2 separate regions of the Homo sapiens genome follow, and region 1 is linked to region 2. The links come from fine-mapping of genetic effects on gene expression. A gene starts in region 2. The other region holds a variant in brackets. All regions are shown on one strand. Distances are between the middles of the regions. Region 1 overlaps NRF1 (nuclear respiratory factor 1). Region 2 holds the start of NRF1 (nuclear respiratory factor 1).

The links. PIP is the estimated chance that this variant, and not a neighbour inherited with it, causes the effect.
Region 1: its variant is fine-mapped to the expression of NRF1 in prefrontal cortex (GTEx, PIP above 0.99).

What each region holds. Positions count from the first base shown.
Region 1 is chr7:129,644,975-129,647,884 of GRCh38, forward strand. All of the region lies in intron 1 of NRF1 (nuclear respiratory factor 1), which reads left to right. Among named protein-coding and RNA genes, the nearest start is that of NRF1, 35 kb to the left of the region's middle. The variant A/G (reference allele first, on the strand shown) is at 1,622.
Region 2 is chr7:129,610,303-129,613,212 of GRCh38, forward strand. NRF1 (nuclear respiratory factor 1) reads left to right here and starts at 1,418. Exons shown (of 11, transcript NM_005011.5): 1 at 1,418-1,522. RefSeq lists enhancers at 836-885, 2,566-2,705 and a silencer at 1,276-2,265.

The sequences.
Region 1 (2,910 bases), 35 kb after region 2:
GAACTCTATGATAGAGGTATTTGTATGGTCAAAATTCCTAATGTGATCTGTAAACATTATTTCACCCAGTGTAAAAAAAAAAAAAAAAATCATGTAACTGTCCCTTCAACATTTCTTTGCTGTCCTCATCTTTGTACATGGAATAAGAATAAGTTACACTTATATAGCACTCACTATATACCATGTCCCCTTAAGCCCTTTTTCAAATAGTAATTCATTTTGTCCCCAGTAATTCTATGAAGTAGATTCTGTTATTTTCCTTCATTTGACAGATGTTACAACTAAGACAGAAAAAGTCAAATGAAACTTCTCCAAGTTGCTAGTAAGTGGCAGAGCAAGAAATGGAATACAGTATTCTGGTTCCAGAGTTTGTACCACCCCGCCGGAGAAGTGAGGATGTGTTTAAGTAGGCATGAGGTAGAATGGAGAGGAGACTCTCCAGACACTTGTACATGCTGAGCCCAGTTGTATAATAAGAAAAAAGAATGGTAACTCTAAATCGCTCTTTCCCATGCTGGAAATGATAGCCATTACCCACCACTGATTTTCAGTAGGTCTACGCAGTCCGCTAGGGAGTTAGGATGGTAGATAAAGGTCAAAGGTACCATTGCTACCACATTTTCTTTGGTTTCCAAAAACCTGATCTATTCATCGAGTAATATGACAAATTATTTTCTGTTTGTCAGTGTTATTTCTATGAAGAGACAGTATAGTACTATGATGTTGATTTTGAGGTTTGCAGGAATGTTAGACTTAAAGAGTAGGTCAGATAGACTCACAAACATAAGTTTGTGTTGATATCACCTACTTTCCTGTCTATGCTCCCTTCTCACTTCTAAGTGTCCCATTTCTGTCTGTGTGAAGCATTTTATTTTTATGTATTTATGTATTCTGAGATACAGTTTCACTTTGTTGCCCAGGCTGGAGTGCAGTGGCATCATCTCAACTCACTGCAGCCTCCGCCTCCCGGGTTCAAGCGATTCTCCTGCCTCAGCCTCCCGAGCAGCTGGGACTACAGGCGTGTACCACCACACCCGGCTGATTTTTGTATTTTTAGTAGAGACAGGGTTTCATCATGTTGGCCAGGCTGGTCTTGAACTTCTGACCTCAGCTGATCCACCTGCCTCCCAAGGTGTTAGGATTACAGGCGTGAGCCACCGCGCCAGGCCTGTGAGACATTTTATACTCTATAGCTTAGCATCTTTTTAATGATTCATTAAATTTGAGATTCATCAGTGTCTGAAAACAGAAACTCTAATTGTAGTCTTGTAAAAATGGGCTTCATTTTTTACATCACTTCTTTATTGAGGGTATGAGAATCCCGGATTGCTGCTTACCAGCACTGTATGAGTAATTTTGAATGCAAGTATGTATTTTCTTCTTTAAGTATTAATCGGGGCCTAGAAAACCATGTGTGGCATTTCAGATAATTTAATTCTGGGAACTGGGTACACAGGTGTTACAAGATGAAAGAGCACAAAAGACACTGGGGTAATCCAGATAGGAAGCACTACCACCCCTAGGTTTGGGGGAACAGAAGAGAAGAACCTGGAAGCTCAGAGAGGTCCTCCTGCAGCTGGTAATCTGATCTCCTAGTGGAATGCCATTCAGCTGGTACTCA[A/G]CCACCAGGAGAGAAGAGGCACAGCTGGAGTTGGGAGGTGCAACACTCCTCTTGCTGGAGCAATGCTGATATTATAACAATGAAAACAGCAAAGAAATCCCTTCTTCTCTCCCCTTCCAGTCTCCCTAGGCAAAACCTAACAGGATACTGGCAGTAAAGTCTGGAAAACATGGTTGGCAGGCTCAGCCCCAGAGCGAGGAATAGTGCAACTCTGACAAGAATAGAAGACAGGGCTTGGAAGTGAGACGGAGAGAGAGAGATAAACAGCAAGCATAACCTTGTAGGAGAGTTACAGAAACTGTAACTGCCTGGGTGTAGCTTTAGTTATTAAAATGTGCAGCTGATTACCCACAATCATTTATCAAAGAGCACATTATGATAGATCTATTCATAGAGACTTTATGGACCCGAGCCCTGACTTCAGTGAGCTTACAGTATTTTCTTTTCTTTTTTTCTTCGAGATGGAGTCGCACCCTGTCGCCCAGGCTGGAGAATGCAGTGGCGCGATCTTGGCTCACTGCAACCTCCGCCTCCCGGGTTCAAGCAATTCTCCTGCCTCAGTCTCCAGAGTAGCTGGGATTACAGTCATGTGCCACCATGTCCGGCTAATTTTTTGTATCTTTAGTAGAGACGGGGTTTTACCATGTTGGCCCGGCTGACTCCAGACCTCGCGATCTGCCCGCCTCTGGCCTCTCGGGATTACGGGCATGAGCCACCATGCCTGGCGCTTACAGTATTTTCATAAAATCATCCACTCATCCCTAAGTCATTATGAAGTTGTGTGGTAAAGCTTTTTTTTCTTTTCTTGCTTTTTTTTTTTTTTTTGAGACAGAGTCTCGCTGTGTTGCCCAGGCTGGAGTGCAGTGGTGCGATCTTTGCTCACTGCAACCTCCGACTCCCAGGTTTAAGTGATTCTCCTGTCTCAGCCTCCAGAATAGCTGGAATTAAAGCCACCACCCCTGGCTAATTTTTGTATTTTTAGTAGAGATAGGGTTTCACCATGTTGGTCAGGCTAGTCTCAAACTTCTGACCTCGCGATCCCCCAGCCTTGGCCTCCCAAAGTGCTGGGATTACAGGCGTGAGCCACCACGCCCAGCCCAAAGCTTATTTTTCTTAAGCATTATATAAAAGCATCATTGTTAACTGGATTATCGTGTTATTAGTATTAAGGAATATTTACAAAGTTAACCTATTGGTATGAAAAATATTTGATTAGTCATACAATTTTGTTAGTTTTAGATGCCGCAAATTAGGAGTTTGTCTTCCTCAAGGCAAGGCCACTTCTAAAC
Region 2 (2,910 bases):
GGACCTGTAGTCCCAGCTACTGGGGAGGCTGAGGTGGGAGGATCCTTGAGCCCAGAGAGGTCGAGGCTGCAGTGAACAATGATTGCACCACTGCCCTCCAGCCTAGGTAATAGAGTGAGAATCTGTCTCACAAACAAACACATCTAATTTAACATGGGGACTCCAGAGACAGAGGAAAGAGTAATGGATCATTTCCAGGTTTCTGGCTTGAGCACTTGGGTGGCTAGTGTTGGCACTCTCCTAGAAAACACTGGAGAAAAAGACATTCAATTTTTGGATATGTTGAATTTTGAGGTTAATAGAATCTTGAAAATTAAAGCTTCCTGATTTTGTTAATCCGTTTTCTGACACCCTTTAGCAATTCTTCAATGCAATGCTTTTCACATTATTATATGCATAAGAATCACCAGGGGTGTGGAGATGGGGATGTGAAAATGCAGGTTCCTAGGCAAACAAGCCAAGATTCTGGATACCAACTGGGTCCCAGGACTCAAAACAATCAGCCTGAGTAATTCTGATGGAGGGAGTCTCCTGACGACACTAAAAAAACAACAAAAACGACCCCTCTGCCGGGCATGGTGTCCTGTAATACCAGCACTTTGGGAGGCTGAGTCGGGAGGATCGCTTGGGCCCAGGAGTTCGAGACCAGCCTAGGCAACATAGGGTGACCACCCACCCCCGTTTCTAAAAGTAAAAAAAGACCCCTCGTGTGTCTCCACCGTTAGGTTGTTTTCCCACTGTCCACCCCTCCCTACTTCTCAGGCACCTGCTTGGGGGCCCCTATTGCTTCGAATAAGCTCCGTGGGAGCCAGGACTTTGTCTTGCTAACAGGTGCATCTTCAGCGCACTCAGAACAATATCTGGCACAGCACGAGACACCTAGAAATGTTCGCCGAACGATCGAATGGCTGAATACATTCATATGTTGCTTTGTACAAAAACTTGCTTTCAAATATCTGGGAAGAGTTAGAGATAGGAAAGCAGAGGTCATTTCAAAGAGAGAGAGTGAGGATACCACCGGGAAGGCAGCGCCGAAAAAACCAGAGGGGAACCACTTGCCGATCCCCCAGGCACAGTCTGGAGGTCCCAATTCCCGCGGTAGGGGGGCGAGAGATGCCACTCGTCTGATCAGCAACCATTTTGGGCCCGCTTGCGCCGCTTCTCCGGGGCGTCCGCGTTGTGCTCATCCAGTTGCTTTTGAGGTTCCGGCCCCCTCCAAACCTCTGAAGCGCTCCGTGCACGCGACGCGGCGGCGGGGTAAGCTGGAGCCCTCGCCGCGAGCCCTCTCCGCTGCCTGCCCGCAGCACAGCCGCGCCGACCTCCTCATCATGGCGGCGGCCGGGCGGGGAAGCCGGGCCGTGCGTCGCGTGCGTGCCCTCTCCCTCCCCTCCCCCTCCTCGGCGGCGGCGGCGGCGGCAGAAGCGGCAGCGCTCGCCATTGCCGCTGGTGGCAGGAGGCTGCGAGGAGCCGGCGCGGTCGCAGTCTCCACGGCGCAGGCCCACGGTAGCGCAGCCGCTCTGAGGTGAGTGCCCTACCGCGCAATCTCCAGCTATTTCAGCCCCGGCGCAGCCGCAACACGCCGCCCGCCCGCCGGCCGGCCGGCCCGCCCCGCAGCCGGCACCCTGCCGCCCCCGGCTCTGGGCCTGGGCCCCCGCCGGATTCGGCCCGCCTCGGGCGGGGGGCCCCGGCCCGGCCCAGCCAAACCGCCACCCCGAGGATGCGCAGGCCGCACTAGGCCCCAGGCGTCCTGGCGGGCTCGGGAGGGAGGCGCTGCCCTCCCGAGAGCCCCAGGGTTCCGGCCTCCTCCGCCGCCTGGGGCTCTCGGGGCCGCGGCCTTCTCCCCGCCGTGGAACCCGGGGCCCGGCCTTCCCGCAGCTCGGGAGCGGGAGGCGCGGGAGAGTGCGCCGGGCCCGGGAGCGGGAGGTGGGCGGGCTGCGCGGGACCGGAGCCGCGGCTCTCGGCTCGCCCCCTCGGCCCTTCCCGGCTCTCGTACGCGGGCGGGCGGGCGGGCGGCGCGGTGGGGCCGGGCTGGGGCGCGGGAGCCGCTGTCTCCTGCGGGAGAGGAGGCTGGCTCTTTGGGCGACCTCCGAAGCTTCCCTCCTGCCGGGGTGGCGTGGGCTTGTTACCCAGGTAGACTGGGGGACGCTGGAATATGGCGCGTTGCCCACCTTCTTGCAAGTTAGGAGGTGGCCGGGGCGGCAGTTCGAGGAGGAGGGCGCAAAGTCCTTTTGTACGCAGAAATAAGGAGCGACATTGTGTTTTCTTCCCCAGCTGAGATGTGCCCGCGGAGGGGCCGCGGTTCTTCCTGTGCCTGGGGTGGTGGTCCCCTGGGTGAGGGAGAGGGGGAGTGGCACGCCCCTCCGAAGGAACAGAACCTTTTGCCACTGGAAAGACAGGGGCTCTGAGATGGCCGTGTGCATGGTATTTTCCCATATCCCCAGACCTTTTCGGGTTTGTCATTGAATGTTGTGCACTCCATCGTGCAATGATGTCTGCTGCCTCTCTCACCTGTTGTGTCGTGGCTGCTGGTCCCAAAGTTTCTGCAGTGTATTTGGCTGTGCCCACCAGAACTTGAAGTTGTTTAAAAATCTTAATACTTGGGGGGCTTCCAGTGATATCTGCTCCAACCAGTTGGAGGAGCTGTTGCCTGCTCTCCATTCTTCTTAAGCATTAGATTAGAATATATTAATTGCTTATTTTAGAGCTGGTGTCAATCGTGCTGATTTCTTTATGTGGTCAGAGCAAAATTCACATTTTTTTAAGTGTTCAGAGACTGCGTATTGAGAGACGCATAAGGAGAAAGGTAGTGTGAGTGAGCCTGTCAGCTTGGGCAGTGTTGGGCAGAGCTTTTGTCCCGGGACATCATCTGTGCTCACAGTGATCCTTTTTCCCATTCCATCTCAGCCTAGC